Linked DNA regions of Homo sapiens. The protein of the gene in region 1 interacts with the protein of each later gene in a biochemical or structural test. Each region holds a gene or a part of one and is shown on either strand. Other genes may lie near its edges.

Region 1 (3,918 bases):
TCCATTATAACAGAATCGAAATTTCTAGATGTTATATATGCTGTCCAAGTTGACAGCGCCATCTAAAAGTACAGACATTAAGTCCAACAGAGCTTAAAGGAAAATAAATACAGACATTATTTGTACAGATACTTGCTCATATGGTAATGTGGTAAGAAAATCTAAATTAATAAGGTTTTGATAATAGTAATTATGGCTTGATTAGTAAATACAAACATAGGCTTTGAAGGCAAGCCTGATAATACCTGGCTCTGCAACTAACCAGCTGTGTGGGCTCTGGCCTGTAATTCAACCTCTCTGAGCTTCGCTTTCCCCATGTGTAAAATATTCACACGATTGGTGTAAGCTGCAGATGATTTACTGTATGTAAATAGCCTAAATCAATTAAAAGGGGGCTCTTGTGATTAAAATAATTATTAGTGTTTCCCCCCACTGATCCCATAAATCACATTCAATCCACTGTGCCATAATTTAAATGTGTAAAAACTGTGAATCAGACTTTTATTGGATTAAATAGCAACGTATGGGAACTGAACAAAAATGGCATAGAGCTATCCAAGAGTTTCTGCTGTCGCCGGTTGAGAAAGATGCCAAGTTAAGATCAAGGAGTTGATTGAGGTAACTACGGGAATCTGAGGAAACATCGTTGCTTAACTGTAAAAACTAAATCAAACTATTTCATCCTCCTCAAGACCACAGCAACATCCATCTTGCTCCTCTGTAGCGTGGACGGGGCAGAACCCAGGTGTTAGGAAACGCACCTGGTCTGCTCCCGCCCACTAGGCCCTGGGCACCTCGGGGCTAGGGACAGAGGTTTGGAGCAACTCACCCCGGAGACTCCGTTGATACTGCCCCAGAATCTCCTCCAGGGTAGAGTTCTCCGGGGACTTCGCCATGCACGCACTCTAGGCCCAGAGCTGGGAGTTACGTGGGGAAATGTCCAGCTTTCTCCCTTCCGAGAACAACAGGCCTGTGGCCGGGGAGCGCCCGCCTGCTTCCTGCCGCGGCTGTCACAGGGGAGCCTAGAATCCCGCACAGAGCTCTTGGGGGCTCTTCCCACCCACTGGCCCTCGCTTTGCACGTCGGGAGTTGTAGTCCTCACGTTCAGAACCTGCAAGCTCGACAATCCTCAGGGCCTTCCAGTTACACTACAATTCCCAGAAACCACTGCGCTCCAGGCGCTAGCTTGGACGGTTTGGCTGCCAGAGCCTGCTGCCAAGAGACAGGCTTGCAGGCCCCGCCCTTTTCCTCCAGCCCAGCCTGGTTTAGTCCCGCCTCCATCCCACTCTTCAGCTGCCTGGACCACCCAAATGACAGAAAGGGCTCACTGAAGGCCTTGACGCTTCGAAATTTGCTAATATGCAGCAGTTGATCCCCAGGCTACTCAAGGACGCAGATAGTAAACTCTGAACCCTGCTTCAGTTGCGAGATTTTTTAAAACGGTCGAATAAATCTTCAAGAAATAGAAGCTCTAAATCTTCCAAACAGCCTAGATTGTAAAGGCGGCCGACACTACAACTCCTAGCATGCCCAGCAACCGGACCTTCACTTGGAGTTGGCGCTCTGCCCGCTGGGAACTGTAGTCCTTGTTGGTTGCGGTCCCACCTAACGCCGAGGTCCTCTTCATTGTTCAAGCTGGTCTTTCGGGGCACGCCTGCGCAGTGGGCAAGCTGGAAAAGCGTGTGGGTGAGACCCTCGCACAACCCCTTTTCATTGTCTGTGTGTGGCGCCTGCGCAGTAAGGGATCGTTGGAACTGGGCAGGAGGGGATAGGGTCCGGCTCCTCGCCCTTTCCCGAGGCGCCTGCGCACTAGGCAGTCGGTCTTTGCCGTTACCGCTATGTGTGGGGCGTGTGTGGAATAACGTTATTGCCCAGCGGAGCTGAGGGCCCCGGAGCTCGACCGCAGCGGCAGCGACGACAACAGCGGCGACGACGACGACGACGAGGTGGGGGGAGGACGGCGTGCGAGAGACTCACGGGACGCGACGCGCCCCGCCTCCCCCGTCCGGTCCCTCTCTCCACGGTAAGGGGTAAGTGATGCGATCGGCTGCTCGGTGTAGGCGCCGCAGCCGCAGCCACCGCCGCGGCTGCTTTCCACATCCTGCTCCTCGGGTTTGCGGCGAGGACTCGGGCGCCGCCCGCCGCGGGGCGGGGGTGCGGGGCTGGACCGCGAAGGGGGCGCTTCCCGGGTGCTCCGCGCGGCGCCGCCACCCCCACCCTCTGCCCGCCTGGGACCCGGGGCTTGACGGGACCACCCTTCCCATCCCCCACCCGCCGCCCCCCGGAGCTCCAGTCCTGCGGCCCCCCGGCTTTCCCGAGCCCCTTGCTGCCGCCTCCGCATCCCCTAAGTGCATTGAATCATTTTCAGCTTTCGACTGGCTTTGTGCAGCCCTCCCCCCTCCGCCGTAGCAGTTTGCGAGGGGTGCGGGCGGAGCATTGGAGGGAATGGCTGCGCTGCCGCTGGGGAAGGGATTTTTCCCCCATTGGAGCAGCTCCCCGGGCCAATCCCTTTTGTGTGATTGGTTTTGGGGTGTGAGGCGGTTGGCGAGGTCAGGCGAGCAACCTTTTGGACGCGTTGGGAGGGCGTGGAAGACGCGGTGTCATGCACCCTGCCTGGCGACTGCACCCCGTGGAGGCTCTGGCTCTGTAGTAAACCCGGGGGAGGAGAGAGTGGCTTCCTGTCGGCTTCATTGTCCTAGGATTCAGATGTAGGGTTTTGGTACGTTTCGCTTCCATTTTATGCAAGCGATGAAAAAATAACATTTGCAGCTGCCTAACACAGGGCGGGAAGACGTGGGATTTGTATACTAAGTCACAGAATCTCTGTTCGGTGGTGTTTCGTAGAGTTTTATTTATTTATTTATTTATTTATTTATTTATTTTGAGGAATGTAAGGAAGACAGGGACTATGCCTGCTGGAGTCCAAGCACTGCCAAGGTGATCAATATAAAATTACTAGGTGACGTTGGAGCCTGGGCTAGAGAGGGCCTGACAACGAAGCTGTTGTGTCAGGGAAATGAACAAGCAGAATTGTTTTTTCATTGGGCAGGTAATGCATTTATGTTCCTGAGGGAATGGATACATCTTTCCGTTTATTTTTTAAGCAAGTAAAACAAACAAAACAACTGGCCCAGTACATTTCTGTTACCGAAGTTGTTAACTCATTTTTATTCTCTTAATGAAAATTCAGCCATTTGGGAGGAATTTGGCGAAGCAGATGATACATTTGATTGAAAATGCATATTTTAAAATGATTTAATCCTTAAGCTTACAATGTATGCAGCCGTTTGCTGGCGTTGCTTCTTAAAACACACCAGAAGAGAGAATAAAGCAGGATGGGGAGGAGCAGGTGGAGGAATAATGGGAGAGGAGAGAGTGACATTATGACTATAGTATCTGGATCTTCACTGGTATAACCCTAACTGGGTATGCTTCAGAGACTTAGGAATTCAGCTCTGGAAACAGTACACTGATGAATAGCAACTTATGTATTTTTCTGTTATTATTTTTTAAAAAGTAAAACTAGGGCTGCCTTTAGCTCTTCCTAACTTTGTAGATAACACGGAAGAGCCCAAGTGCACTTGACAGAGGAAGACACTAAAACTCAGAAAGTTAACTGACTTGTCTGCCCAAGCCAGACAGTTAATCGAAGGCAGAGCCAAACGAAACTCAAGGTCCATTCTGCAGAGTGATCTTTCCTGTGTCCCCCTAGCCCTTTTACCTTGTGAAAATGTATGGAAAGCTTCTCTATGTGCTCCCTGAGTAGGCTGTGACTATCACTGAACTTGATTCTCACCGTGATTAATCTAGTTCTTGCCTTTGTGATGTAAAAGTAGTAATCCTCCTAAAATGGACCTTTACTTTCATAAAGTAACTTACTACATGAGGAAAGATGTCCTAACATGTGCTTTTCATAAA
Region 2 (3,918 bases), on another chromosome or scaffold:
TTTTTTTATTACTGAACTAGATTGCATACTTTTCTTCTAGATAAATATTATTTAAGAAGTAATTCCTTAGGAGAAAAATGACTCTGTAAATTGTTTCCTTTTCAGTCCGCCTGCCACTGCCCCCGACCATACGCAGATATACACAAGACAGGAATTTTTCTTTTTTTTTTTGAGATGGAGTCTAGTTCTGTCTCCCAGGCTGGAGTGCAGCGTCACGATCTCAGCTCACTGCAACCCCCACCTTCCGGGTTCGACCGATTCTCCTGTCTCAGCCTCCTAAGTAGCTGGGATTACAGGTGCGCACTGCCACGCCCGGCAAATTTTTGTATTTTTAGTAGAGACAGGGTTTCAACATGTTGGTCAGGCTGGTCTCAAACTCCTGATCTCGTGATCCGCCTGCCTCGGCCTCCCAAAGTGCTGGGATTACAGGCGTGAGCCACTGCGCCCGGCCAGGAATGATTTTTTTCCAACACAACAGAATTTGTAGAGGCAAGTTGGTGGTAGGGTGGCTGTTGCTCTAATTTTACTAAAAGCAAAAGTATCTGAAATTCTTGACAGTTAATGCCCTAGAAAACAGCAAATTTCAGTAAAGAAGACTCTGCTTCTGTGAACTTATTTCTAAAAAGTAAAGAAGAGGTGACACAAACTTGGGGAGAAAGTTATCTTGATGCCCATCATAGAAATGAAAGAAATATGTGGCATTCCTTACAATCTTAGAACTCTTGGAGTAGGGGTAGGAGCTTGCATTGTAGAGTCCTAGCTAAACAAGGTAACACTTATTTTATATTTATAGTATGTTATGTTACTGTTAGTATGAGTATGCTACTGAACCACATACATAGGACCAGTTAGACCGGACTTGGATTATTATATTCAATTGTGTGAATCAAATATAAGAGGGGATTTTTTTATTCAGAGGAGGAAAGTGGAATCAGAGCATCCAGAATTTATTGCACAAGCATAGATACGAAAATTAGTGCTGCTTATTCTAGAGATGAAAGAAGACTATACCATGTTATCGTCTTCACATATGTGGAAGAATCACAAAGAGTGAGTGGATATTACTTGTGTGGCTTTGGGAGTCAAAACTAAGGCCAGCAGGTGGAAGGTTACAAGGGGTCAGACAACCTTTAACAATATTCAGCGATCGAACTGTCTGGAAGTATCCAAGCAGTGGCTGGATTGGCATTTTTCAGAGATGTTGTAGAGAGGATTTCAGCCTAGTTCGACCAACAGGTTATAATCTCACTAGTACAAGAAAGTGGGATGATTCCTCCAATTGAAGGCTTTAGCTGCTCAGCTACCAAAGATATACTAGCTTTTGTGATTGCCATTCATATCTTTTCCCAAAATGATAACCATTGGAGACCTCCAATAACCTCTCAGTAACATTTTCTTCTTTGGCTGTAGGCCAACATCATAGTTACAAGAGATGCACAAAATTTATCCAACACTCTTCACCTAGAACTACAGTTATAGATTGTTGTTTTCAGGATTGGTTTTTGCTATGGGAGATAAATCATACATCAGCAGGAAACCCTAGTGTCAAATAAAGATCAGTCTATTTAGGAATTCATCATCTTTCTTGACTTATCAAATCTCCCAATGTATTATCAAGACTTTGAGCTATACCTTTGCCCTCAGCGCTTGCTGGATTTGGAGGTAGACAGTTGACTTCAATAACAAGAGTTTGGAGTACTCCTTTCAGTGTACCCCCATTCAGATGGTCAAAATTTCATCACCGTAGAGGCCATGGCGTTCTTTTCCAAGTTTCTACTAATCTGGCCAGACAGTATGTCTATCCCAAGTTGAGATGGGCAAAGTCCTCTCCCTTGTATTCTTCGTTCTTAAGAAGTATATGTGGGAAATAATTTTCTGGATCTTAGCAAACTAAAGTTAATAGTAAATGAGGCCCGGGCACAGTGCCACAGGCTATAATCCCAGCACTCTGGGAGGCAAAGGCAGGAGTATCACCTGAACTCAAGAGTTCAAGACCAGCCTGGGCAACAATGGTGACACCTCATCTCTACAAGAAAATAGAAAAATGAGCCGGGCATGGTGGCACAGAACTGACACTCTGGGAGGCAAAGACAGGAGTATCACTTGAGCTTAAGAGTTCAAGAGCAGCCTGGGCAACATGGCGAAACCCCATCTCTACAAAAAAATAGAAAAAGTAGCCAGGCATGGTGGTGCAGGCCTGTAGTCCTAGCTACTTGGGAGGCTAAGGTTAGAGGATTACTTGAGCCAAGGCTGCAGTGAGCCGAGATTGCGCCATTGCACTCTAGGCTGGGCAACAGAGGGAAACCTTGTAACACAAAATAGTAAATGAGAAGTTTAAAATGACATTCCTCAGAAAAAATGTGTCACTGAGAGTCCTGGCTAAAGGTTGCTTGAAAGCTGAAGGCTGTTTGATTATACCTTCCAATCTCCCAGACTACAGGAGCTTTGTTTTGTGGCATTTGTTGACATTTTTCCAGAACTTTGCCTTTGGACAAAACCCTGTGTGATAGCCTACCTTTAGATATTGCAAGACATCACCATCTCATATGGGACCAATTGTGTTATCAGTGATTAATCCCACCTTTGGACTATGAAAGACAGGAGGGGGATAGCATTTAGTTAAACTTCCTAAGAGTCTAAGTTGGTTTCTCTGTAGGAACTTGACTGCCTCACAGCTTTTGGGAAACCATTCAGATGAAAGCATGTTTCCAGTGTAGCAGCAAAATGTGATATTATTAACAATAGTCATAGTTAGCAAGCAGTACCTGGAGTTGCTGAAACTGATGGCATCTAGATAAGTAATAAATTTGACAAGAGGCTGCTTTTCTCTGTTTTCACAAATCATTAACACCATATTCTTTGTGAGGATCCTTTCCTATTCCAGCAGAGTATTAGACATGCATTAAACAAATGTTTGTCAAGTCCTGCTATATGCCAGACACTGACCTTGTCCCTGAGTAAACTGAAATGAACAGGACACAATACCTGCCATTAACTGACACATGGTTAATGTGGTCAACAAGTATACTTTACAGATAGGCCTGCTTTGCTTCACTGTAAGTACTATATAGTAGATTCATACTCTGTGTATGGTTTCATCAGAATTTTCACAAGTAGAACAGTGTTTGAAGTTGAGTGCTGTTCCATAATTACAAAATAAACTACAGTGTGTCCTGAGCAGCCATGACTACCAACTTTATTTAGGCTTCTGGTTCCTCATAAAGAGATCCTTAGAATATGGAGATTTACATTGACTCTGATGATATGCCTATTCATGTTCTACCTGGCCAGTGAGAACATGATCAGAATATACCCTGCAGAGCATTTTTTCTTCCAGAAATTGGTGCTTAACAGAAGTACTTTGAACTATTCTTGAGACCATAACAATAGAGATTTTATCAAGGATTACTCCTCAGTTTGGGAAGTATGGTTTTTTGGGGGTTGTGGGGGTGAGGCACAGAGTTTCACTCTTGTCGCCCAGGCTGGAGTGCAGTGGTGCGATCTTGGCTCACTTCAACCTCCACCTCCCAGGTTCAAGCAATTCTCCTGCCTCCTGCTTCAGCCTCCCGAGTAGCTGGGATTACAGGTATGTACCACCACGCCTGGCTAATTTTTATATTTTTAGTAGAAACAGGGTTTCACCATGTTGGCTATGGTGGTCTCGAATTCCTGACCTCAGGTGATCCACCCACCTCTGTCTCCCAAAGTGCTGGGATTACAGGTGTGAGCCACAGTGCCCAGCCAGGAAGTATCTTCAATCTAAAGATTTCGCCAAACTCCAAGCAACTTTTTTTTTTTTTTTTAAACATAGCTACCTATTGACTGCCTCCAAATAATTTCCTTTAAGTGCCCAAGATGTGGCTTCAAACATTAAAATCTCAGACTATTAATCTACTGTCTCAGCATAGCAGATTACAT

What was found.
Region 2: the proteins of CEP170 (region 1) and TNKS2 interact in a biophysical measurement, tested with the Homo sapiens proteins (one study listed by IntAct).

The regions. Positions count from the first base shown.
Region 1 is NC_000001.11:243,253,152-243,257,069, reverse strand, and holds the start of CEP170 (centrosomal protein of 170 kDa), read left to right. Parts: upstream 1-1,788; 5' UTR 1,789-2,030; exon of another isoform or gene 2,031-3,918. Other genes in the region: SDCCAG8 (serologically defined colon cancer antigen 8), read right to left, coding at 830-896.
Region 2 is NC_000010.11:91,801,321-91,805,238, forward strand, and holds part of TNKS2 (poly [ADP-ribose] polymerase tankyrase-2), read left to right. Parts: intron 1-3,918. UniProt on the Homo sapiens protein: Poly-ADP-ribosyltransferase involved in various processes such as Wnt signaling pathway, telomere length and vesicle trafficking.